Homo sapiens: one gene and its partners. The protein of the gene in region 3 purifies or fractionates together with the protein of the main gene of each other region. This does not show direct contact. Each region holds a gene or a part of one and is shown on either strand. Other genes may lie near its edges.

Evidence for each region.
Region 1: the proteins of ZSCAN12 (region 3) and ASAH1 purify together in Homo sapiens (affinity purification with mass spectrometry; one large-scale study listed by BioGRID and IntAct). This does not show direct contact.
Region 2: the proteins of ZSCAN12 (region 3) and EVPL purify together in Homo sapiens (affinity purification with mass spectrometry; 2 studies listed by BioGRID and IntAct, with this or other methods). This does not show direct contact.
Region 4: the proteins of ZSCAN12 (region 3) and FLG purify together in Homo sapiens (affinity purification with mass spectrometry; 2 studies listed by BioGRID and IntAct, with this or other methods). This does not show direct contact.
Region 5: the proteins of ZSCAN12 (region 3) and DMKN purify together in Homo sapiens (affinity purification with mass spectrometry; 2 studies listed by BioGRID and IntAct, with this or other methods). This does not show direct contact.
Region 6: the proteins of ZSCAN12 (region 3) and A2ML1 purify together in Homo sapiens (affinity purification with mass spectrometry; 2 studies listed by BioGRID and IntAct, with this or other methods). This does not show direct contact.
Region 7: the proteins of ZSCAN12 (region 3) and ME1 purify together in Homo sapiens (affinity purification with mass spectrometry; one large-scale study listed by BioGRID and IntAct). This does not show direct contact.

What each region holds. Positions count from the first base shown.
Region 1 is NC_000008.11:18,074,108-18,077,607, forward strand, and holds part of ASAH1 (acid ceramidase isoform a preproprotein), read right to left. Parts: intron 1,481-3,500; coding exon 1,434-1,480; intron 1-1,433. UniProt on the Homo sapiens protein: Lysosomal ceramidase that hydrolyzes sphingolipid ceramides into sphingosine and free fatty acids at acidic pH.
Region 2 is NC_000017.11:76,017,307-76,020,806, forward strand, and holds part of EVPL (envoplakin), read right to left. Parts: intron 2,348-3,500; coding exon 2,222-2,347; intron 1,755-2,221; coding exon 1,608-1,754; intron 1,295-1,607; coding exon 1,140-1,294; intron 953-1,139; coding exon 855-952; coding exon of another isoform or gene 789-854; intron 606-788; coding exon 433-605; intron 1-432. UniProt on the Homo sapiens protein: Component of the cornified envelope of keratinocytes. May link the cornified envelope to desmosomes and intermediate filaments.
Region 3 is NC_000006.12:28,396,948-28,401,231, forward strand, and holds the start of ZSCAN12 (zinc finger and SCAN domain-containing protein 12), read right to left. Parts: upstream 2,801-4,284; 5' UTR 2,710-2,800; intron 1,820-2,709; exon of another isoform or gene 1,643-1,819; intron 1,527-1,642; 5' UTR 1,459-1,526; coding exon 1,057-1,458; intron 1-1,056. UniProt on the Homo sapiens protein: May be involved in transcriptional regulation.
Region 4 is NC_000001.11:152,315,240-152,318,739, forward strand, and holds part of FLG (filaggrin), read right to left. Parts: intron 239-3,500; 5' UTR 218-238; coding exon 80-217; intron 1-79.
Region 5 is NC_000019.10:35,510,850-35,515,056, forward strand, and holds the start of DMKN (dermokine isoform 2 precursor), read right to left. Parts: upstream 2,801-4,207; 5' UTR 2,627-2,800; coding exon 2,201-2,626; intron 1,942-2,200; coding exon 1,741-1,941; intron 1,629-1,740; coding exon 1,572-1,628; intron 965-1,571; coding exon 914-964; intron 745-913; coding exon 562-744; intron 1-561. UniProt on the Homo sapiens protein: May act as a soluble regulator of keratinocyte differentiation.
Region 6 is NC_000012.12:8,846,621-8,850,120, reverse strand, and holds part of A2ML1 (alpha-2-macroglobulin-like protein 1 isoform 1 precursor), read right to left. Parts: intron 2,612-3,500; coding exon of another isoform or gene 2,573-2,611; coding exon 2,423-2,572; intron 1,402-2,422; coding exon 1,207-1,401; intron 453-1,206; coding exon 362-452; intron 1-361. UniProt on the Homo sapiens protein: Is able to inhibit all four classes of proteinases by a unique 'trapping' mechanism. This protein has a peptide stretch, called the 'bait region' which contains specific cleavage sites for different proteinases.
Region 7 is NC_000006.12:83,221,552-83,225,051, forward strand, and holds part of ME1 (NADP-dependent malic enzyme), read right to left. Parts: intron 2,383-3,500; coding exon 2,209-2,382; intron 1-2,208. UniProt on the Homo sapiens protein: Catalyzes the oxidative decarboxylation of (S)-malate in the presence of NADP(+) and divalent metal ions, and decarboxylation of oxaloacetate.

The DNA of each region.
Region 1 (3,500 bases), on a different chromosome or scaffold from region 3:
AAGGGAGTAGAAACGGCCTCAAACATGGAAGGCACCTCATTAAATGTTCAATGAATTGGGGCAGTGAGACCAACAGAGAGACATAATCAATCAGTAAGGCAGACATGTCACTGAAGGCCAGAATGATGCCAGTGATGACAGAAAGGAAGACTTTCAGACAGCAGGCCATTGAAGAAAGAGCTGGAATGAACACTGGCCCCAAACAACATCCAAACTGGTTACCTCTAAATTGCTTCCTGCCAAATACTGGCCTCTTTCTACATAAAGGCGAGTAAGTCAAAAGAACTTAGTTTATTACAGTTTCACGCTATCTGGGACAGAGGCTATTTAAAATACATCGTTTAGACAACAACAGTACAACGTAAGTAATTTGGAATGTTGCACGAACTGAAAATGTCATCTTGATATCACTAGATAGAGTTGTACTGTTTCCCCCTACAAACAGCAGGCTACTTTCAGCGAAAGGGCAGTGTAGGAGAAAAAGATCACCACCCCCTATACCTGTTCCTTCTTTTCTCTGTTCTGTACACTCTGAGGGGTCTGTGAGCTGTTATTATGGCTTTCTCACAGGCCCATTTAAACACTGAGGATTTGGAAAGACCAAAATCTAGACTAAAAATATTAATGTTAAACACACTGAATCATGACATTGGTCCTCCTCTTAGGTGTTCCAATCCTGTTTTGTCCTCGACAGCTTTGTTGTGCCAAGGTTTATTTTGAGAACGTTTCACATATGAGGGCCTATGCTTTTTTGTTACAATATAATTTGGTGGTTTATATCCAGGCACCATAGAGAATCACAGGTCATTTCAAATACAGCCCTTACATTTGTCAAAGATGAGAAAAACCCTTCATGGTAGACAGGAGAATTGAGTGGAGAATGAAAATCCTTTCCTTTTTTTTTTTGAGACAGAGTCTCACTCTGTCGCCCAGACTGGAGTGCAGTGGTGCGATCTCGGCTCACTGCAAGCTCCGCCTCCCGGGTTCACGCCATTCTCCTGCCTCAGCCTCCAGAGTAGCTGGGACTACAGGCGCCCGCCACCACGCCTGGCTAATTTTTTGTATTTTTAGTAGAGACGGGGTTTCACTGTTAGCCAGCATGGTCTCGATCTCCTGACCTTATGATTTACCCGCCTCGGCCTCCCAAAGTGCTGGGATTACAGGCGTGAGCCACCGCGTCTGGCTGAAAATCCTTTTCTTTCCGATGATTTTGATAGTCTAGCGACGGGCATTTGAATCGGAAGATATTTTCATATTTGTCCAAGATCTCAGCCAAATGCATAATAAACAAATCTGAGAAACAAACCTCTGTCTCGGAATGGGAAACATGACTTAAGATTTTATTCACTATCGTTCGTTTATGAGCAATTATTACATACAGAAAAAACTTCACAAAGGTCAAAGGGAGTTTTGATCATCTGATGTTTACTCACGTTGGTCCTGAAGGAGGATAGGTTGATTTTCTGCAGTCCTCTGTCCACTGAAAAGCAAAGAAAATTAAGTTTCAGAAAATAACAAATGCTTGCCAACGGAATAAGCAATTTCAAAAGTAGTTAATCTGTGAAGACAACATCAAGTCTGATATTGCTCTTTTATACGTTTCAATGCCTCTTAAAATAAGTCTTTTCTTTCCAAGAAAACTTCTAAAATCCTAAACCATTAAGTGGATTTTCAGTTTCAATTCAATTTGTAAAAGTGCTAGGTGTTATAATTTGGCTCTAATATTTCAAATATATTGAGTAACGAACAAATGTAACAAAGTAGATGGAAAATATTTATGTTAGAGAGGCTGACTTAGCACTAAAAGTAAATGACCTGATAGGATGTATTATCTGCACTTACCAGCCATGTGTGTTGCAACCTGTCCTGGGATTTGCCTCCCAAACCAGATTTTCAGGGCACACAGCACAGGGCCCTTCATCATCTTTCCATGGTAACTTACCATCCCAGCCTCATCTCCTGACACTCCCCTTAGTATTTATAGCCATACGCAGGCACTTCCTATCATCTCTCACCCTTCCATGCCTGTGTCTGTGCTATTCCCTCTTGCTAGAATGCCTTTTCCCCACCTGGTGAACTGCTGGTTCTAACTTCCAAGATTCAGTTCAAGCATTTTCTTTCTTGTGAAGTCTTCATCTATCTTCCATATGAAAATATTCATACCCTCCTTTCCTCCCACAGCATTTGTGCACACTCTCATCAACATGTTTATGACACTGCTTTATAATCATCTGTTTGCGTTCCTTGTCAATACCAGACTCTGCGCTCCTTGAGGTGAGGACGGCCCCCAACACTGACGTCACTGCCTGAGACAAGGAATGAACAGACTCTTTTAGGGGAAGTTGTCCAAGCTTAGTGGCAAAATGGAACCTTCTCCTAAACTTATCAAAAAAAGTCCACACAGATTTATGATTCTTTTGTTACTCATTCAACATATCAAGTGTCTTTATCTCCTTTCCTCTGGAGAACCAGTTCTGTGAAAGTAAAATAATTGTTTTAAAAAAGTACAAATCCAAAATAAGATAAAGTAGAGTAGGTAAGAAAACTCTTGGAACTGTAGCTTGAGCTCAGAAAACTCTTGGAACTGTAGCTTGAGCTCAGAAAACTCCTGGAACTGTAGCTTGAGCTCAGAAAACTCCTGGAACTGTAGCTTGAGCACAGAAAATGTATCTGCTGGACAGCTGTGTAAGAATGGAGGTCTAGCACCTTGTTTTAACTTTTGATAACATGGGGAATATATAAAGTAGGTTGACATTACCTGTGATTCAAACATTAGCTGTCAAATTTGCCTTACCACACTGTAAGTTTCTCACATATGTCTGGCTTTGTCTGGTAATTTTGCGTTGAATTCATTAAGAAACAATATCAAGTCTGTAGCAAAAGCTAATTTCCAAAGCCATTCGTGTTCAGTAATAGTGGCTGGGGGCAGCTCGTTTAGAAAAACTTCAGTCTCAACTGTGAACTCAAAGACTGCAAAACTTTACAGCTAGCAAGCTATCTAATGGCTCTGTCACAAGAGACATCAGGATATCCGGCCTCTATTTCTGATAATTCACAGAAATGATGACGGTTATATCCACAAGAGCAAATGAAGCTCATGGTTTATATTGCCGGTTCAATAACACATGTGAGATTCCAATATTTTCCACAAAATATCTGAAAAGGAATACTATAATAAATAACCATGAGCTTTAAACACCTCGCATGTTCACAAGTTTTGTGAATTTGCTCAACTCCGCCTTTTTCTACTCACAAATATTTTTACTACTGTCAATTTTTATAGATCTTAGCAGATTCCATTCCAGGTTATACTCAATCATTATTTTCTCAGCTTCTTCGAAAACATCCTCGCCTGTAGTTGTTTTATACAGATGATTCAGAGGCTAACTCTTCAGTCACTTCAAACTTGGCAATGATCATCTAATAAATATCAACAACTGATCAGTTATCGGTATGTTGACAGTCAAGAAAAATCACTCAAAAATCACATGCTTTGTTCT
Region 2 (3,500 bases), on a different chromosome or scaffold from region 3:
GCTGTTCTTGGGTAAGGAGTTTACACAATGCTGCAACCTCCCCAGGTAGGCTCCCCCTTGCAGCCAGGGGACATCTCTTCCTAAGATTCTCCAGGCTTCCTTGCTATTTCAGGAGCTTCACCAGAATACCTCCTGGGGTGTTGACATTGGGCCCTACTGGAACCTTCCTGAATGATCAGGCGAGCTGGGCATTATTACATCTGCTTCAGGGATGAGGAAACCAAGGCCCAGAGAGTTATGTAGTCCAAGATCCTGGAGCTGGTCAGTGGAGGAGCCAGGAGGGGAACCAGCTTGTCTGAGCCCGGGTCTGTCCACACCCTTCTCCATCTCCATCCCAGCCACCGCTCCTGCACTTGCCTCACCTCCCTCAAGTGTGAGCACCAGGGCCGGGCCGCTTCTCATCCCAGCCGCCCCTTCCCGCTGCTCACCCACCTCATGGCTGTGGATGCGGCCCTCCAAGTCCTCCAAGGGTGTGGGGCGGCTCAGCGGGGCCCGCGCCCAGGCCAGCACCTGCCTCTCTATCTGTCCCAGGTCTCCATCCAGCCGGGTCATCTGTGTCAGGAGCTTCTGGGCCTGTGGGTTGGCCAGGTCTGAGCCAGATGGAGCTGGGGGCAGAGGTGCTGGTGAGGGCCCAGGGCCTATCTCCAGACTGCCAGATAGGTGCCCCCACCAGGTGCCCACAGAGGGTCCTGTCGGGGTAGGGTGGAGGGGATGGGCAGGGCCACCCCAGAGATGAAATCCCCAGAGTGATGGTCCCTAACCCAAGGCGACCCCTGCCCATCACAGACCAGTCGGAAGTCGGAATCTACTCCTTCTAGCCCCACAGCCACCTCTCCCCGGGCCACCCTGGGTACCCTGCTGGCTGGGCCGAAGAGACTCCACAGCACTGGCCTTCAGGCGGCTCTGGACTGTGGCCAATTTCTGCTTCAGGGCCTGCAGCTCTGAGGCCAGCCTAGAATGAAGAGGAGATTGAAGAAAGAGGTCCCCACTCTGCCTCTCTCCCTCCCCAGCCCCAGTAGACGCAGCTTCAGGTGAAGGCCAGCCTTTGAGCAGGGGTCTGTTGGGCCATGGGCTTGGACACCGCAGGGCCGGCCTGCTCTGCCCACAGCCTGCCCCTGAGTATCCCTACACAGACCTACCGGGAGGCCCTGGCCACAGCATCAGGGTCTGGTGCTGGGATGCAGAAGCAGGCGGCGGGAGCACGCTTGGTCTCCCCGCCAGGGCCCTGCACGACCCAGGCGTGCGGGTCAGTGTTATCTACCAGCTTATACCGCTCACCCTGCAGCAGCTGCACCTGGGGGCACAGAAAGGGAGCAGCTCCTGAGGGCTCAGGGGCAGGGGGCCAAGGCCAGGGCAGAGTAGGGGCTGGGGACAGAGACAAATGGGGACAGCAGCTGGAACAGGGACAAGAGTAGGGTGGGAGGTGCTGGGGTAGAAAAGAGGCAGGACAGGACTTGGAGAGAGGAGGGTCTGAGTCAAGGGAAGGAGTAGGGCAAAAGTGGGCGCAGGAGACAGCTGGGGATGGAGCAGGGATGGGCTTGGGCAGGGGCAGGGGATGGGTTGGGCGGGGCTGGATGGTGGCAGGGGTGAGGTGGGGGAGTTCGCACTTCTCCTGAGTCCCAGTCGCAGATGCTGTCCACGTGCAGGGGCTGCTGAGGGGGGTTTCTTCGCTGTGGCAGAGGGGCCACATCCCGGCTTCGCCGCTGCAGGTCCCCAGTGGCCCTCTCGGTGACGGCCAGCCGTTTTTCCTCTGCCTGCCGGGGGCCCAGGCAGTGGGGGACTCAGGCCAGGCTGCATTGGAGGCTGGCCACACCATACCTGTCCTTCAAAAGGCCTAGAGGCTGGCCTTCATGAAGGCAGGGGTCTCTAAGTCAGCAAAGTAAAAGGAGCCCCTCTCTGGGGGACCTAGGATCCTGGGATCTGCTAGTTGCAGGGAGGGGGATGGCACAGCATCACCCAGGCCACCAAGCAGAAGCTAGACAGGCCTCAGAGCTCTCCCAGGCTGCCCTTGTCCCACTGCAAATGAGGAAACTGACGTCCAGAAGTGGGAGGAGCTTGCTGGTACCTGGCCAGCCTCCTGCTAGAGTAAACCCCCCTGCCAGCACCCAGGCCAGGGCTTGGGATAGGACTAGGTACCAAGGCAGAAGGGGTGAGGCCCAGAAAAATGGACAGGACCAATTCCCAGAAGTGGGGTGCAGACGGCCTGGTGGGGTTGTCTCACCTCCAGCTGTTGCAGCAGCTCTGTGGGGGCGCCAGGGGGGCCCCCAGGTGCAGGGCTGTACTTGGCATCCAAGTTGGAGTTGAGCTTCGCCAGGGTCTGGCTGACTGAGTCGGCCTCTTCCTGGAACTGAGTTCACTGGGTGGTCAAGGGCAGAGCCTCGTGCAACCTGCTGCCCACTGACCCTACAAACCAGCTGAACCTAAGCCAGCTAAACACAAAGCAGCTAAACCTAAACCAGCTAAACACAAACCAGCTAAACACAAACCAGATAAATGTGAAACAGCTAAACTAAACCAGTAACCGCTAAGCCAGCTAAACCTAAACCAACTAAACACAAATCAGCTAAACCTAAACCAGAAAAACCTAAGCCAGGTAAACCTAAACCAGCTAAACTTAAACCAGCTAAATCTAAACCAGCTAAACACAAACCACCTAAACCGAAACCAGCTAAACCTAAACCAGCCAAACACAAACCAGATAAACCTAAACCAGCTAAACCTAAACCAGCTAAACACAAACCAGATAAACTTAAACCAGATAAACCTAAACCAGCTAAACCTAAACCAGCTAAACACAAACCAGATAAACTTAAACCAGATAAACCTAAACCAGCTAAACACAAACCAGATAAACTTAAACCAGATAAACCTAAACCAGCTAAACTTAAACCAGCTAAACCTAAACTGTCACTCTCCCCTACTCTGGTCGGTCTTTCTTTTTCCTACCCAGGCGGCAGGACCTTTTATCACTGGTGTGCTCTTGCAAATGGGGTCTTATTTGTGCACTGAACTTAATTTTTTTAAGTGGGTCATAAAACACTTGGTCTTCGTCCTTCCTGCACAAATGAAGGGCACCGTCACCTGCCTCCCTCCAGCACCTGAAGTCTTTCTTGCTGGGACAGAGGGTATTGGAGCTGCACTTGTCCCAGCCCCGGAGAAGAAGCTGTGCTTTAAAGAAGCATTCCAGGTGCTTTGACGGAATTTTTGTCAACGTGTGTGATCACAGTCTTGTGGTTCTATAGGAAAATGTATGAAACATTATCTGCCCCCAAATCCCAGTTGCATATTATATCAGGGTTTCTCAACCGTTTTTTTTTTCATTATTATTCTCCTAAAGAGCCTTTTAAGAAATATTTTATTTAATTTCCCCCCACCTCATCCCCATAAAATTTTATTTATTTATTTATTTTGATAGAGATGTATCTATTTGTATAGAGACAGGGTCTTGCTATGTTGCCCAGGCTGGTCTGGAACTACTGGTGTCAAGCAATTCTCCTGGC
Region 3 (4,284 bases):
ACCCTCTCTATTGCATTTTGTATCACAGTGCTAGATTATACTTCTGTTTCATTATTTCCCTAAGTTTCAAACTCTTTATACCGGGGTTTCCCAGCATTGGCTCTACTGACATGTTCCTAGCATTGGCTCTACTGACTTTGTTGTCTGGGGCTGTCCTGTGTGTTTTAAGAGGTTTAGCATTAGCCTTGCCCTCTCTACCCACTAGATACTAGCAGCACCTCCCCGAGTGATCCACTAGATACTAGCAGCACCTCCCCAAGTTATAACAACCAAAAATGTCCCAAGACATTGCCAAATGCCCTCTGGTGCACAAAATTGGCACTGGTTGAGAACCACTGTCTCATTTTAGTATTAAAAACAAAACAAAAACGTTCTACATAATTTGGTTCTCTTTTACATCTTACAATTAGTAAAGCTCATTTAGACTCAAGGAGAAAAGGTTAGGGGCATCTGTCCTACAGAATAAAATCTCAATTCCAGAGGTTGAGATTCAAGGTCCTGGACACTATCTCAACTCTGCTATTTGGAATTCACCTTTCCAACCTAACTGGGCTTTCTGCTACTCAAAGAAACACAGATTCCCCACCCTGCTCTCCTCACTAACTTTCCATTGTACTCCCACATCTCATTCCCCTGAAATAGTTAATGTCTTCATTTTAAAACCCTGTAATGGAGTCAGAGCAATGGATATATCTGCAAAACCTTAATTCTTAATTATTTGTATTGTGCAACAGAGTGATGCCCCTCCAAGAGACTGCTTCCCATCCTGCTACTGTCATCTCTTTGATACTTTCTCTTGTCTTAGAAGTTTTCTAAGATGAGCAGCATGTTTATCAAACAGAATTTTGTAGCTTAATAGAGAAATATAAAATCCTTCCACAGAAAAGTTATAAATAAGTTGGGACCACATTAGCCAACTTTCCGTGAAACTCATGCCCCTTTCTGATGCACCAAACTGTCAAAAACATGCTTTGTGAAAAAATGGCTGTTCTTCACTCTGGCCTAGAAATCCACAATTTATGTTTTCTCAAGCAGAAGTCACATCTTTTTTCTCACCTGCTCTCCTGGTTCATCCAGTTCTCTCTCTAAATCCTCCAGCACAGTCACCACCTCCTCCCCACTCTCTGGATGCTGCTCCTGCACCCAGGCCTGGAGCTCCTCAGGTAGGATGGTCAGGAACTGCTCCAGCACCAGCAGCTCCAGAATCTGTTCTTTGGTGTGGGTCTCTGGCCTCAGCCACTGATGGCAAAGTTCTCGGAGTCGGCTCAAAGCCTCACGGGGACCAGATGTCTCCTGGTAGCAGAACTGTCTGAAGTACTGACGGAAGACCTCTCTGCTATGGGTGTTGTTTTTACGCAGGTCCCAATCCTGTCTGGTGGTATATTTCTCTTCCTCTATCTTTACTTCCAAAGGTTCATCCTGGTCCATGTGGGCCTGGATAGCCCAAGTAGATGCCATTTTAGCTGTGCTAGAACTACCGGTGTTTCAAGTAAGATCTCACCTGGAAACTGTATTCCTGGACAGTCCTGAAGAATAAGCCATCATTATTAATACAAACTCCACCATAAAGTAAAACTGCAAATTCTGAGAACTTAACTATGACCTTTGAAATCTGACCTCCGGATTAATGTACAATACTTACTCAGAAAAATACTCTGATAGAAAAGACTTAAGATTAGACCGATTTAGGCCGGGCACAGTGGCTCACGCCTGTAATCCCAGCACTTTGGGAGGCCGAGTCGGGCGGATCACGAGGTCAGGAGATCGAGACCATCCTGGCTAACATGGTGAAACCCCGTCTCTACTAAAAATACAAAAAAAAAAAAAAAAAAAAAATTAGCCGGGCGTGACGGCGGGCGCCTGTAGTCCCAGCTACTCAGGAGGCTGAGGCAGGGGAATGGCGTGAACCCGGGAGGCGGAGCTTGCAGTGAGCCGAGATCGCGCCACTGCACTCCAGCCTGGGCGACAGAGCGAGACTCCGTCTCAAAAAAAAAAAAAAAGATTAGACTAATTTAAAGAGAAAGACTGAGGAAAGGTGCCAAGTTGTTTCAGGACTTAAGAGTAAGACTTGTTGGTAAACTTATTCTCATTTGGTCCTAAATGAAAGACAAATGGAATAAAACTAACATTTAGATCAAGTAAATAATAATAACAAAAGGTTAGGACATCCTTGATTAGTTACTTTTATCTTTTGAATGTCCAGATGTCTGGTGGAAACCATGAAATCACAAAAGCTACAGTCATGTAAATTTATTTCTTCAGGGACTTAATCTTTCTGCTCCTCATTCTTCATTTATAAAGTGAGAAGGCTGAAGAGGTTACTCTTTAAGGCTTCCCTCTAACCTCGTGGTCTGTGATTATAATCTGAAGTGAGGAAGGCCCAGGAAAGGGTCCCTAGGACGCCGGCGAGCGTCTGTGACCCACCACTGTCCAGAAATGTCGGTAAGCGCTGAACCCAAGGATACACAGCCCGAAGCAAACGCGGAAGGTATGGGCCTTACAGCCTGGAATTGCTGCAGAGACTGGGAGCCAAACCCTCATCCTAATGTCCCAACGCACTTTGGGGAGGGAGAGCTTCCCGCGGATCCGCCTGGGTTTGGGAGGACCGGGGTCCACTCTGCACCGGCCAGGGCCTGAGGGGCCCAGCAGCTGGAATACAGCAATCTCCCGCCCACCTGCTCGCAGCGTACAGAGCACAACATCGCTCACCTGCGGCCCCCAGGGCCAGAAGAGAACTCCCTCCTACGGAGCGAAGGCAAGAGGCCTCGAACCCTTTTGGGACCCGGAACCCATCAAAAGTGACCCACAAAGGCCGGAAGCGGCCACGGGGGGTCTAAGAACCAGCCCGCGCGGGGCGCACTTCCGCGGCCGCTCTAGGAAGGGAGCGAAAGGGGCTTTCAACTCGGTAGTGTTTCCGCGCGTCTACGTGAGAGGAAGGTTGATGGCTTTCAGGCCCGCTGGTAAATGGAACGGGTTTATCTTCTCCTCTTCTTTACCCAGCCATTGTCCACACTTCCCCCGACCCGATGGGTGGTCGAGGCTTGTAGAACTGATCTTAAGACAGGGAAATCCCTTGCGTCTCCATTCACTTTGGGATTCTGTGTCTCTGAGGTTAGAGATGCCTCAAAGGGATGTTCTCCGGGGGACCTTCCCAAATCCGCGCTTAGCGGTGGCGAAGGGACTTCTTCCACACAGACTTCTCAAGGGCCAGCCGGCTGGTTTCTGCCGGCTCTTTCGCCATCCACGATTCTTTTGATGTTCTCTTTTATGTGCTGATGTATGATTATATGTCAGAAAACCCGGTTCAATGGAAAAACTATAAAAAAAGGATAATTTAGTAAAATAGCAAGATATAAAGTTAACACACTAAAATCAACGACCTTCATATATGTGAATAATCAATGATAACGAGTTACGAGATATAATGGAAGAGAAGACCATATTTACAAGAGCAGCAAAAAAGTGAAACTAGGAATAAACTTAACAAGAAATGAACAAAACTTCTATGGGGAAAGCTTTAAAACATTCCTAAAAGGCCAAGTATACATTTAAACAAACAGAAAGCGATATGAGGTTCTTGGAAAGACTCAAAGAGGTCAGTCCTCCCTAAATACGTATGCAACTGTAGTATTCCAACAAAAATATCAACAAATATTGTTCTGGAATTAGATAAACTGATTATAAAATTCATGTGGGGAAATAAGAATAGCCAGGAAACCCATGAAAAAGAAAAATGGTGAGGGTCAACCTTATCAGATACTGGAACATACCCATATAATTTTAGTGTATTAACAGAGAGAAAGAATAGACCAGAAATGGATCCAGGTATGTAAGGATATTGAGTAAATGATGAAGGTGACACCACATATCAACAGGGAAATGAAGAACTTAGAAGTTGTGCTGGGATGATAACCGTTTGGCAAAGGTAAAACTGGATTTGTATTTCCCACCACACATCACAATAGAGATAAATTCTAAATGGATCTGAGATCTAAATATAAAAAATCCACCTATACATGTATTAGAAGAAAACATGAATAATAATTCTAACACGTGGGAATAGGGAAACATTATCTAACCATATGACTCAAAATCTAAAACCCATAAAAATAATAAATCTGGCTACATGAAAATAAAATGTATTGCTTGTCAAAAAAAAATAAGGAAAGAAAAAGGCTTGCAACATATCACAGGCAAGGGCTAGTTTTCCAAATACCTAAAGAGCTCCTAAAAGTTGAGAATAACCAATAACCCAATAGAGAAAATGGCCAAAAGAAATAAATA
Region 4 (3,500 bases), on a different chromosome or scaffold from region 3:
AGAGCTCAAAATAACCCTTGCTTAGATTATTGATGAGAAAAACAAATGCTCTATCTTTGGTCTTGTCAGAGACTCTTACCTTCAGGATTTGCCGAAATTCCTTTTCCAGAAGTTCCTTCAGCTCTTTTTTACTCAATGTGTCAGTGTTTTTATCTTTTTTTGAATATTGCTTGAAAAGATTAATTATGGCAAAGATGTTTTCCAGGAGAGTAGACATCTTTTGGCAATAAATGTGAACCTAGAAAGAAGAAATGAAAATGCACTTTTTTATACATCTTTTTTTCTAGGTTATATTATTACAATCATTTTCCACATTTTAAACCTACATTTTCCTCTAAGTAATCCATCTTTAAGAATGGAAGATGGACATGAGAAACTTTTCTCTACCATCTACATAAAACAAATGAATAGAGTTTTCCTGACTTAAATAAAATTGCCCATTTTTTGGCCTTGTGCCCACTTACAGCTGGACTTAGTAGTCTCACAGACCTCAGTGTGCTCTAGGTAAGATCATCCCTCTTGCTGATCTTGCCATTGCTAGCAACAAGAATTTAGAAAGGCTGACTGGTTTTAAGCAGTAAAATTTACTTATACAAATTTACTGAAAATTACTTCCCCAAAAGCTAACTTAATAAATGATTAATTTGCTAAGACACAATTCTCTGAAAGCCAGTTAGCCATATGACAAGATACTCAATGAAAGTTCATTCAATTTTTTATTTGTTTTTTAAACATTTCATGAAGTTTATAATATTTCATTGTATAGGATGGATTTAATAGCTCTTCAATATTTAAAGAGAAAGGTTTTTCTGACTGGGTTTCATTTTGCCATTTAAGGAATGTTCAGTTTATCTCATTGGTGAAGAAATTAGTAAGCATGTCAATAAATCTAAGTGTGTATTATATAAAGAATTATAACTTTATTAGGACTTACAAAACCAGGTGAAACTAAAATACTGTAGAAAACAATGTGAAGGAGATTACTGTAGCAGTCACAACTAAAACATTTTTGGACCTTGGTTTGTTTGGTAAGAGGAATTAGATATTAATGAATTTTGCTGTGGTTAAGTGATATATGTATTTGGGTAAGTTTATGGGTATTTACTAAAATAATAGAATTTATAATTTCTAAACCATTAGAGATGAAAAAGGGGAATTAAGAAACTTTAATAATTCAACAGAAGCCAGGAAAGAAGAAAATAAGAAGCATAGAAAAAGAAGGGTAAACAGAAAGCATAAAATAAATTAATAGAATTACAAATAATTTTATTATTACTAATTACAATACATGTAAAATAGACCATATCTTGCCAGTTAAAATATAGATTGTAAAGATTGAATTTAAAAAATTACAGGTATATGCTTCTTACAAATGCATTTTAAAGTTTATGATTATTTTCAGCCAGTCTTATTTATGATGATATTGTATTCTCTGAACTTATCGTTACTTGCAACATATGCAAAATCTCTTTCTGAAGGATCTCACTCTTTGACCTTCTCTTGTACGCTGATGTCAATAATTCTTTAACCTCTCTATTTACTGCTTTATGTACTCACTTCCCTTTTTACCTTGGTTAGACATTATGTTTAATCTCCCCAAATGCCCCTTGGATACATCCACTTGTCCTACTTTTTCTTATACCCACTGGCCAAAGCTTCAACAACTTCTTCTTTCCTTTATCTCTGATGTCCTTGATTTTGATTCCTGAGAACTTGGAAGCCATTGGAAAAGAGTTTCCTCATTCTCCTAATATCTGATCTCCCAACCTACTACATTTCTATCCATATACCTTGCCTTCACTTTATTTAGGGTAATAAACAGTCTGTGCTCCTCCTGTCCTTTACTTTGGCACTGAGCCCCACTCTCTCTTGCCTACCCAAACACTTTGCTTTTGCAGTTGCCTACTTTCTCATATGCATCATTAATTCTTCTTTGTCTACTGGATCATTCCCTTCAATATATATTCATGCTGAAATATCTATCTAACACTTACCTTCCCATCTCCACCCCACCCTCAATCTCACATCTGCCTTTAGGTACCATCTGATTTATCTGTTCCCTTTTATAGCAAAATTCCTCAAAAGATATGCCTATACATTCTGTCTTTACTTCCTCATTCTTGTTTTCCTTTACTCAAGGTATTTTTCTTTCTAAAAAATGTATTAAAACTCTCACCAAGTAAAAAATATCCTTCATATTTCCAAATCCACATATCCATTTTTATTTTACATATTACTTGACATATCAGCAGCATTTGATGCAACTGGCTTCATCCTTCTTCAGAGACCTGGCACTCTCAAGTTTCTCCTCCAACCTCAATGGCCACTTTTTTCTTAGCCTCCTCGTTCAGCTCCTAATGTTGCTATGCCCTATGATTCACTCCTTAGCTTCTTTTCTTTATTATACTCCCTCGGGTCATCTCATCTAGTTCTATATAACTTTTTAAATAAGTTGGCAACTCACAAGTTTATACCCCCAGTCACTGACTGTCCCCTAAACTTGAGATGTGTATGTCTAAATGCCTATCCAGTATTTCTACTTGAGTCTTGTAGAGATCTTAAATCTATTATGTTCAAAACAGAAGTCTTGATTTTCAACTGCTTTACCCTAAAAATGTCGCACACCCGTTATCCTCATCAGTTATTCCTGTCTTCCTGATGGCTCAAGTCGTAAACCTGAAAATTAGTTGATTCTCCTTTTCTTACATCCAATATCTATTCCATCAACATGTTTTATTGATCCTACTTTCAAAATATCCCTAAAATTAGTCAGTTTTCCCTACTTCACTCTGTTTCCTTCTCTAGTAGTTTATTTTTATCACCACAGAAACATGCTGGAGTATCTTCCATCTTAAAACCCTTCCCTCGAACCATTATTCCACCCTCCCCCAACATTTCTCCTAACATCTTACTAGCCTAATTAACTGCTTCATTTCACAGGAGTCTTGGAGAAGTTTTCTCTGCTTTCTCTCTTAAAATGTTTACCACCCACTTTCTTTTTAACCTGCTTCTCTCAATTTTCTATCACCAAACTCTACTGAAACTGCTTTGTGTCAAATCATCTGTGATCTCCAAGTTGTTGAATACAGTGTCATTTCTCCATCATTACCTCATCATCATCATCTTACTTAATCTCTTGGTATGTGAAATAGAATTAACCATTCCTTTCTTAATGGAGTCTTTTTTTCTTGGATCTCATGACACCATATTCTTCTGATATTCCTCTTACCCATTGAATGCTGTTGTCTCTCAGTATTCTTTACTAACCTCTCTTCTACTCAATCTCAAAAGGTTGGAAATATCTGTGGCTGTGTCTTAGACCTTCTTTTTAAAAAAAATCTACACTCCTTTCTGAGGCAATGTCATTGGATCCCATCACTTCAGATACCATCTATCTGATGACTTCAAAATTGATACCTCTAGGCATAACCTTTTCTCAGAGCTTACATTCATTCATTCATTCCTTCATTTATTTAACAAGTATTGAACAGCTACTAAAG
Region 5 (4,207 bases), on a different chromosome or scaffold from region 3:
TGGAGAGACTGCCGGCTCTGGAGTCAGTGAGGCCCGGGGCCCTGGGGTGGCAGCTGCGGGGTCACAGCGCCCCTTCCTGCCCTCACACCCATCGTGCAGGGGCCCCATGTGTGAATGTCGTCTGCACCGTCGCTCTGTCAGCGTCCGTAGGTCTCCCGGATCACAGTCCTGCCCCCATTCTCCTGGGAGCTTCCCAGACAAGTGTCATATTCTCCCATGTCCCCCTCTTTCTCCGCCACCCCACGGTCTCCTGAGACTTGCCAAGTGGACTTGACTGCAAGAGCTTAGACAGGCGGGATAACGTCCCCACCATCACAGAGTGGAAAATAGGGATACAGAGTCAGAAGCAGTGGGGTGGCTCTGGCAGAAACGATAGTGCGCGCATCAGGGGCACAGCATGGGTGGGGAACAGGAGGCTGAGGGAGCCTCAGGGTGACGACTATCAGCGAGGCCGCCCATCCTCGGGCAGCGGCAGCTTTCAGAGAAACTTGGAGCCCTCTCCCGGCAGGGACCACTAGGGCCTCACCCCATCTCAGCCTTCCACAGAGGTGCCAAACTCACCCAGGAGGACTCACTGCCGCTGTCACCTCTGCTGCCACCACTGTTGCCACTGCTGCCACCACTGCTGCCGCCACTGCTGCCGCCACTGCTGCTGCCACTGCTGCTGCCACCACTGCTGCTGCCATTGTTGTTGTCACCATTGCTGCCACTGCCACTGCTGCCCGACTGTGAGCCGCTGCCTCCCTGAGGGGCAGGAAGGGAGCAGGGCTGGGATTAAAGACAGAGCACCAAGACGGGCCCCTCCTCCCTCCCTCTCCACCCAGGCCATATTCCATGATGCCCAGTCTAAGGGGAGCAGAACTTCTCCATTTCCTCCTGGTGCACAACTCCTGGGTTGCCCCTCTCCACTCACCCCAGAGTTGCTGGAGCCTCCACCTGAGCCAGATGGTGGGGGATTCGTGCACTGTCGAGGGAAAGGGATGGTGAGTTTGGGGACGGTGAGTTTGGAGACGTTGGCCTCGGCCATGGACACAGGCCAGGCCTCTCCCATTCTTTGGGGCTTGGCTTCCTTTCTCCTAATGTGTTTCTCCCACCTCCCCTTCCCATCTGCCTCCTCCCCAGGCCCAGGCCCGTCTCTTCCTCCTTTTTTTTTTTTTTTTTTTTTTGAGACAGGGTCTCACTCTGTTGCTCAGGCTGGAGTGCAGTGATGCGATCTCGGCTCACTGCAACCTCCATCTCCCAGGTTCAAGTGATTCTCCTGCCTCCGCCTCCCAAGTGGCTGCAATTACAGGCGCATGCCACTATGACCGGCTGATTTTTGTATTTTTAGTGAAGACAGGGTTTCACCATGTTGACCAGGCTGGTCTTGAACTCCTGACCTCAGGTGATCCACGTGCCTTGGCCTCCCAAAGTGCTGGGATTACAGGTGTGAGCCACCTCGCCCAGCCCCATCTCTTCCTCTCACCCCAATCCCTCCACTCCCCCATCTTGCTTTCCTCTTTGTCTTTCCCCAGCTCTCTGTAGCCTGCACCCAGTGGCTTCTTCATTTGTTCCCAGCCCCTTCCTCTTACCCCTTCATTCTGGTTGCTGGCTCTCACTGAACCATAGCCAGGCTGGGCCACAGCTCCCTGCAGAGAGGGTGAGACTGAGAGTAGGATCCAGAGGGACCAGGGAGGCACGCGGAGCATGTGGGCTTGGAGGGAGGGAGGTGGCAGGTAGCAGGTCTGGGGGTGACTTTACCTGAGTGTTGGTCCCAAAGTTTGGTGGCCCTCCATTGCCTCCTTGACCCCAGGGAGCTCCCTGAGGATTCATTCCAAAGCTGCCTGCTGAGTTTCCGGGGTATCCGTGGACCCACGGAGTCCCCAGACCTCCAGGATTGCCCTGGCCCTGGCCTCCAAGGCCACCTTGAGAGCCAAAGATGCCATGGCCTCCAGAAGTTTCCTGCAAGAACAACATACCTGCACTTAGTGGGACCATCTCTGACCCTGGTAGAGAAGAGCCAGGGCAAATCATAAAGAGACCAGGAGAGAGACAGGCAGAGGGACTCCAGGGTGGCATAGGAGGGGGGCAGAACATAGAAGGAAGCTGCCCCAGAAGCCTGCAAGTAAGAGATCCATCCATCCTTTCAACCGTTTCCCAAGAATCTCAGCCCAGCAGCCCACAGCCTCCCATTTCCACATGCAGCCCCACAGCCACTCACCCAAGCACCATTGTGGCCAGGCACCCCCTGCCAGGAGCCGCGGACAGCATCTGCTCCGTGTCGAATGACATCTTCTGCCTGTCTGCCAATCTCGTGCCCAGTGTTTCCCAGAGCATGGGCTGCTTCCCCGACCCTGTTGCCCAAAGCATCTGCTACGCCAAAGCCTGGAACCTGCCTGACTCCAGTGCCAACTGCTTCTCTGGTCCCTTGGCCAAGGGCCTCACTGACTTTAGAGCCAGCTGCCCCTCCGGCCTCTTTGCCAATGGCCTTTCCCACCCCTTCGCTCAGGGCGTCTCCCAGGCCATGTCCAAGGGCCTCCCCAATATTTGTCCCAGTGCTTTCCTCTCCGCTCTGCAGGGGGCCAGCCTCCCCACTGCCCAGGCAGAGGGCCAGCAGGAGGCAGGCCAGGGGCCCCTGGAACTTCATCTCTGCCCAGCCCCCTCTCTCTCCAGAGTGTCTTCCTCCCACCAGGGTCTCCTCCTTGCCGCCCTTGCTCTGCGTCTCTGTGCCCTCCTCTGTCCTCCTCCTTCCGACTCCCTGTCCTCCCTCCCTCTGGGTCTGCAGCCTTCTCTCTCCTGTCCTCAACTGCCTGGGCTTCTCAGAGTCCACCTCCCTGTCACTACTCCTTATACTCTAGGTTGGGAGAAGGTGACAGGGCTGGGCAACCTGAGGTCCCTCCCCGCAGTGACTCAGGGCCCAGCCACCAATAGGGTAATCAGCTGTTATTGTGAGTCTGAGAGTCTCTGTCGAAACAGAGAGTGAGCCGCATCAGGGAGGGAGGGAGAAATGGATGAGGTGATGCAAAAGTGCTCCCATTTCCCAACCCCAGGCATTCGGGGAGCTGGGTGGGGGCAGGGGCATCTAAGGAGACAGGTTGTCGTTGGCTCCTGGAGGCGGTGGGGTGGGGGCAGACTTAGAAGAGAGGAGTTACTGGCAGGACCCCACCAAAGGAGTAAGGACAGGGAAGCCCCAGGGGACAGGACCCACCCAGGCTCAGCCAGCCTGGCTCAGGGGCTCCAGAGTGACAGGCATTGCCCGTCCTCGGCCTGGCCTTTCTCGGTTTCAGCACCTCAGCCTCTCCTCTCCCTCTCCCCTCCCGCATTGCCACCTACAGGTGACTGCCTTCTTGTTCCTCCACACCTTCCAGCCCACAGAGAGAGACTGGCAAACACGGGGCTGCGTGTCAGTTTCTGAGATTCTGGGGAGAGCCCCCGGGGGGACCCTCGGTGTCGGGGAAGGAGGTGGCCATAGCCCTTTGAGTGGTCAGCAGGGTGTCTCAGCGTTCAGGCTGCTCCCGGCTGAGAAAGCTGGGCGCGGAGCAGGGCAGCCAGGCGCGCCAGCCACCCCCAGGGAACGAGTGGGAGGGAAGGCCAAGGGAGGGAGCCGCTGACCCAGGCACCCATCCTGTTTACGCAGCCCTAGAGGGGCACGTGTGAGTATAAGCGCCTATGAGGGGCGGGACTGGGCCAGCTCACCCCACCCATCCCCCAGGCCAGGGGCCAGGGCAGCAATGGCAAGCGAGAAGAGGGTAGCGCAAGGTCAGGAGCCATCCGTGAGAGCCACGGCCCTCTCCCCAGTCCCAGCTCGGGATACAGAACCTGGGAGCCTCCCCCCGCCTCACCCCTGCCCAGCAAGTGTGGCTGCTTCTCTATTCCCAGGGGCCACAGGGCCTCCCACTGTTTCGTATCACTGGGGTTCATCGCCCAGTTAGGAGGGGCCAGTTTCCATCAGCCTTTCTCAATGTCTCTCAGTCAGTCTCTCTCTTCTCTCCACCCCAATATCCGCACCCCAGCTTATAACATCCAACACTTCTTACCTTGTAAACACTATCCCCATCTGTCCTCCTCAGCTCCTACTTCCCTGTTATTCCATCTCTGACTCGTTAATGATGATAATAGCGATGGTGGTAATAATAATAATAATAATAATAATAATTACAGCTCCAGCTTATCAGCGGTTCTGTATGTACCCAGCATTGGACTAAGCACAAGCAGTTTAAGAATTATA
Region 6 (3,500 bases), on a different chromosome or scaffold from region 3:
GACTTCTTGTTGTGACATAAATTGGGATGGAGGGATTACTAGAAAGAAATTTAGAGGGAAGCAGAGAACATCCAGTCAGAGGCAAGGAGGAAGGACCAAAGAGGAACTAACTAGTCACAAAGGCCATCGAGGGAAGTGATAGCCAAGGAGGTTTGGCCGGGGAATGGATACATAAGCTTCAGGCTTCAAAAGCTCTCCCCAGAGAGAGAACACTTGGGAAACTGTCCTGCATCTGTGACCCACAACCCATTAGCATTCTCGGGCTAGAGGCTCAGTGCAAGAACAGGAGGCAAGAGGAAATCTGCAGAGTTCCAGGACTGTTAACATCTCAGAGAATCCACAGACCACAGAGGTGGCTTACCACCCATAGCAGTGCTGTATTCTGGAGATCTGTGACTGCAATCTACTGGCTTCTTGATTTTGGCATTGGACAGTATTTTCAGGCCCACGTCCTGATAGGCATCAGAGAAATAAGTATTAAGGTGGTCCCTTCCCCAACTACAAGGGCTACTGCCCAGGAATTCCACCATCAAAGAGTTGAAACAAAACATTCTTTTTGAATTAATGGTGAACCTGGGTGTTCTTACCTGAAACTCAGCCACTGAGGCTGGTTGGCTTCTGTTCCAGCTAGCATGAAAGGCTTTCAGTTAAACTTATTTCATCATTACATACATGTAATGGTTCTGCCAAATATTATTCGCTATGTCCTTACTATTTGACTTACGCTGTAAACATGCTGAGGGTAGGGACCATATCAGCGTACTCAATTCAACAAAAATACAATGAGCCTTATGAAGGGTCAGGCATTAGAGAGAATACAAAGATGAACAAGACCTAGTTCCTGACCTCAGGGACCTCCTGGTCAGACTTGGGTCACACAGCATCCCAAATCCTGCTCATAGAATAGGTGCAAATTATTTTTTATAATAATGATAAGAGACCTCTGGTCTACCTTCTCTAATTTTCCCTCCTGATTGATCTCATGGAAATCAGTGTTTGAGGACAACAAAAAGAGGAAGACTAGGTTGGACATCTTCTTCAAGCATAAGGGCCAACAGAGGCGACCTTACACGTCAGAAGCTTCTTTCAAGATTTTGTTCCCATCAGTGCCCATATGAGTCTCTCTGCTTTCTTAGATATGAACTTTCCTTTGCCCATTCCCACCACCATCTTTCCCATAAGAACAAAATGGGTAAGAAGACCTACCCGGAAAAAGCTGAAAAGGTCCGTGCCTTCAGAGAACGAGGGCCTCCAGATAATGGAACGCTGGCTCGAATGCCCTTGGGGCATTGGGTCAATGAGGGGCTGAGGAAAGTCCCATGGGCCAGACACTGGACACTGATCATACTCAGCCACTTGATAGGGGTAGTGACCATACCAGAATGGAAACATCCCATAGACCTGGGACAAGAGGGGGAGAGGAAATAAAGCATTGATATAGTGATATCAGTTGAGAAACTTCTCTCAGATTCTGGTGCTCAGTTCACTACTCCTGTATCATTTCTCTTTATTACTTCAGAATTATTTTTATATTCATTCTGTCATAATTACCTTTCTCACTGTCTAAAACTTTAACCTCTATCTCACCTATTTTTTCATAATCCTATCCCCTATTTCGTTCTCTTTCTTGTTTTTTTTTTGAGACGGAGTCTTGCTCTGTCGCCCAGATTGAAGTGCAGTGGGACGATCTCGGCTCACTGCAACCTCTGCCTCCCGGGTTCACGCAATTCTCCTGCCTCAGCCTCCTGAGTAGTTGGGATTACAGGCATGCGCCACCATGCCTGGCTAATTTTTGTATTTTTAGTAGAGACAGGGTTTCACCATGTTGGTCAGGCTGGTCTTGAACCCCAGACCTCAGGTGATCTGCCTGCCTTGGTCTCCTAAAGTTCTGGGATTACAGGCTCATTCTCTTTTCTTGTCTCTGCATTCATACTAACCATGCCTTTCTCTTATCCTTTCTTTTTTTGTTTTTGTTTTTTTTTTTTTGTTTTTGAGACAGAGTTTTGCTCTTGTTGCCCAGGCTGGAGGGCAATGATACAACCTCCGCCTCCCAGGTTCAAGTGATTCTCCTGCCTCAGCCTCCCCAGGATTACAGGCATGGGCCCATGCCCAGTTAATTTTTTTTTTTTTTTTCTGGATTTTTAGTAGAGACAGAGTTTCTCCATGTTGGTCAGGCTGGTCTCGAACTCCCGACCTCAGGTGATCTGCCAGCCTCGGCCTCACAAAGCACTGGGATTACAGGCGTGAGCCACCGTGCCCAGCCCTCTTACACTTTCTAACTTCATTTTCACACCAGCCTTTTTACCGCCTTATGGCAGTGCATTATTTCCCTAAGACTTTCTCTCCCCTGCCTGAAACCTACCTCTTAATTGTCTTCTCCATCAACTCCCTCCTCCCACTCTGTCAGCAGACAGTTACTCACAGAGCGGTTGCTCAGCTCTCTGTCTGGCCTAAGCAGTAAGACACTCTCATCCACCGCCCGGAGCGCACACAGGGATCCGGGAGCTGCCTGCAGCTGCAGCTCCACTTCTGCTCCTGGAAGCTGCTGGGAGGGGGAGAAGCCAAGGGAAACCTGGGGAAGGGAAAGGTATAACTTGGGGATCAGGTCAGCCTGGAAAGGAAGGGAAACAACATAATTTGGGTCATCAGCAAATATGCCCCAGCTATGACATCCAACCCATTCTTTCACTTTTGTACTTATCTTTCTTTGTAAAGTCTAGCTCTTCAGGACGTGTATGCCGTGATAGAGTTGGGAAACGTGAGCAGCACAGTAGAAGGATAGAGAAAGTTTAGAAGACAAAAAGTAGAGAGAACATGTGGAATAACTATATAGAACATGTGGCTTCCCAGTATGGCTTTTTTTTTTTTTTTTTTTAATAGAGACAGGGTCATGCCTGTAATCCCAGCACATTGGGAGGCCAAGGCAGGTGGATGACCTGAGGTCAGGAGTTCAAGACCAGCCTGGCTAACATGGTGAAACCCCGTCTCTACTAAAAATACAAAAAAAAAAAAAAAAAAAAAAGCCAGGCATGGTGGTGCATACTTGTAATCCCAGCTACTCGGGAGTCTGAGGCAAGAGAATCACTTGAACCCAGGAGGCAGAGGTTGCAGTGAGCCGAGATCGCACCATTGCACTCCAGCCTGGGCAACAAGAGGAAAGCTCTGTCTATAAAAAATAAAAAAAATAGACAGGGTCTCGCTCTGCAGCCTTGAACTCCTGGGCTCAAGCGATACACCTGCTTCAGCCTTCCGACTAGCTGGGACTACAGGTATGCATCACCACACTCAACTAATTTTTTTTTTTTTTTTTGAGACAGAGTCTCACTCTGTCACTCAGGCTGGAGTGTAATGGTGTGTTCTTTGCTCACTGCAACCTCCGTCTCCTGGGTTCATGCAATTCTCCTGCCTCAGCCTCCCAAGTAGCTGGGATTGCAGGCATCCACCACCATGCTTGGCTAATTTTTGTATTTTTAGTAGAGACACGGTTTCACCAGGCTGGT
Region 7 (3,500 bases), about 55 Mb from region 3:
GTGAATGCTGACAGTGAGGAAAGATAAGGAAGGCTTTCATAATGTTGTGTTTAAGGACACAGTAGGGCATGTCTGTGGAATTACCCAACAGGCAACTGGAGATATGGAAAAAGATGAGAATAGAGATACACAGATTTGGCCACTACTAGAATGAAGATAATAGAAATGAATGAATGAATGAGATCTTTGAAAGCATAAGAAAAAGAGAAGAAAAAACTGGTAACAAAAAATGAATGCTAGAAAAAAAACTCTTACTTAAAAGGGAGATGAAAAGGAGACAAGGAAAATAATGAGTGGGACATAATTTAGATGATATAAAAAACAGGAATATTGTGTTGAAGCCTAAGAGAAAACCAGTAGAAAGGCCAAGAGATGCAGCCAGAGAGATCACTAGCTATGATAAGAATTAGTGATGTGGTATGTTGACAACACCACATTTTTTTTTTCCTTCAAAGTGTTTTTTGGTAGTGATTATTACTTTTCTTGGAGAGTAAACTGAAAATATTTTTCACGGAATTTGTCACTAGAGGGTGCTAGAGTTATTTAAGAAAGAAAACACTGACTACTGCAGGTAACCAAAACTCTGATGTGCCTATTCTAAAAGACAATGATTACATTTTCCTTAATGCAAAAGCTACTTTTACATGCTCTCTTAGTAATTAGACATCCATTTATGTTTAACAAGATTTTCTGAGTTAAAGAAAACCTGTGACATCAGCTGGCATGCTTTTTAATGCAGTGAAGAAAACGACAGGAGAACATTATTGCTTCCAAGCATCTGTTCTCATAGAATGACACCGGGTGCTAGCCACCAAGATTATGCTCCTTTAGATCACATCAGTAACATAAGAATCTTTGTCTACATTCTTGGGGTTCCTCTTCACAATGGAAAAAATATTTGCAGGATAAAAATATTTGAATATCAATCAAGTTCTTTGGATCAGTTCAGCTGCAAAGGTTTAATCGTAAGAAAAGAAATTCACTCAAGTTTCTCATCCATAAATGGTTACCTGTTCAAATCTGAAACATGATATCAACCTGATGAACATCAACCTGATGATTATCAAAAAGCTCATGATTTTATAAATATATGCCCAATCACCGTATCATCCTGCTGAGGCTTGGGAGGAGGAGGGAAACTGATAGGAACATGCAGCTCATGATATCTCTTGTGCCAGGAATTATCAAAGTCCTTTGTCTCTGACCTAAGAGTTTCATGTCTTCTGTCAATATCTATGAAATTGTGGCTAACTTGTTAGCTTGCAAGTAGAGTAAAATCTCAGATCTTTCACAGTTTCATGACAGTACAAGATTCCCCAGTGGGCCTGCTTTGTGATGTTCTGAGAATCTTTCCTCAAGGCCCAGACAGAGCTCACTTCTCCTATTCTTTTAATGATTTTATAAACAACTAATTTCCTATTTTGATCTAATTTCTGCTTAAATACTAGGGTGGTTTCTGTCTCCTGTACTGAACCCTGAATAATAAACATGTCCACTATACCATATCAGACTTTCACTTTAAACCTTCAAAATGCCATTCATTATTAAGCACTGTTCTCAACAGGGAAATATTTACCACTTAATCATCATTTGGAAACAATTTTGTTTTTGCTTTTTTTTAGGTAACAATCTAGCTCTGTAGCCCAGGATGCAGTGCAGTAGTGCAATCGCAGCTCACTGCAACCTCTGCCTCCTGGATTCAAGCAATTCTCCTGCCTCAGCCTCTTGAGTCAGGGGGGATCACAGGCACACACCACCATGCCCGGCTAATGTTTGTATTTTTAGTAGAGATGAAGTTTCACCATGTTGGCCAAGCTGGCCTCGAACTCCTGGGCTCAAGTGATCTGCCTGCCTCAGCCTCCCAAAGTGCTGGGATTAGGGGCATGAGCCACCACACCCAGCCCTGGAAACAATATTTTTAATTGTCCCATCACTGTCACAGAACTTGATCTGATGTGTGAAGACACAAAAATGTTCCTCTTAAGAAATCAAAAACACAATTTTTCTAATGACTACTGAAGAAGAACCTTTCGTTTGTGAGTCAGTATGAACATGCTACCCACCCCTTATACTCCACTGGGAAGTTCTTCAGACTTTACTTCTTTCAGAGAGTAAGCTGAGATGCTAGATAAATAAAACATTAGACAACCTAGGCTGAGCACACTTGGTATTTTAAACCCTTGGTAAACTTAGAGGATTTTACAATACCTCAGCAGTAGTGAGGAAAATATTATCTGTGATCTGCCTCAATCCACACGCCACAACACCAAGAGCAACTCCAGGGAACACATAGGAATTGTTGCCTTGGCCAGGATATAGGGTCTGTCCATTTGGAAGAGTGACTGGATCAAAAGGACTGCCACTGGCAAAAATTGCACGTCCCTACAACAAAGACACATACAACTCACTTTAAAAAGAAGCAGAATATTTTAAAACAAATGTATCATAACAGAACTACCCCACAGCCTAAATTATAAGTACTTAGAAAGAAGTCTAGTTTTTTATTAACTTGCTAATAAGTCTGGACAAGCTTTTGTGATGTTGTGCAACCAGTTCTGGAATGGGTGATTATTACTATTCTCTGTCTTACTCTTTACTTCCAGGAGGAGCATGCAAAGTACAGGATGCCCTAAGACCATCACTCTATTCTCTGCAGTGGTTCAACCGATAGGCTCATCAACCATTTCTATATAGGCTTCCAATTATAGACATCTGAAGATAAAAAATGATGGGCTAATATTTAAGTATTGAAAATAATGATATTTTAGGTTGGGGTTTAGGAATCGACACATTTCCAAAATAAAAACTGGGAAAATCATATATATTTCTATATTGTAAAGAGTTATGTGGGCTAGGCACAGTGGCTCATGCCTGCAATCCCAGCACTTTGGGAGGCCGAGTGGGGCAGATCACTTGAAGTCAGGAGTTTGAGACCAGCCTGGCCAACATGGTGAAACCCCATTTCTACTAAAAATATAAAAAGTGGCTGGGGAGTGGTGGTGGGTGCCTGTAAGCCCAGCTACTTGAGAGGCTGAGGCAGGAGAATCGCTTGAACTCAGGAGGCAGAGGTTGCAGTGAGCCTAGATCACACCACTGCACTCCAGCCTGGGCGACAAAGCAAGATTCCAGCTCAAAAAAAAAAAAAATAAAAATAATAATAATAATAAATAAATAAAATAAAATAAAATAGTTATGTGGAGAATCACATAGGAAACAAACTCATTGGCAGGAGTAGAATTGGCAAGGAAGAAGAAGATTAAGTTATCAATATTTTTCAACAATTGTCTTCATTTTGCCTAGTATTAATATTTTGTCATAATTGTTTTGAGGAATCTCATGTACTGCTTGCTTTAAAAAGGCATGAACTTGGCTGGGCGCGGTGGCTCACGCCTGTAATCCCAGCACTTTGGGAGGTCGAGGAGGGTGGATGACTTGAGGTCAGGAGTTGGAGACCAGCCTGGCCAACATGGTGAAAGCCCATCTCTACTAAAAATACAAAA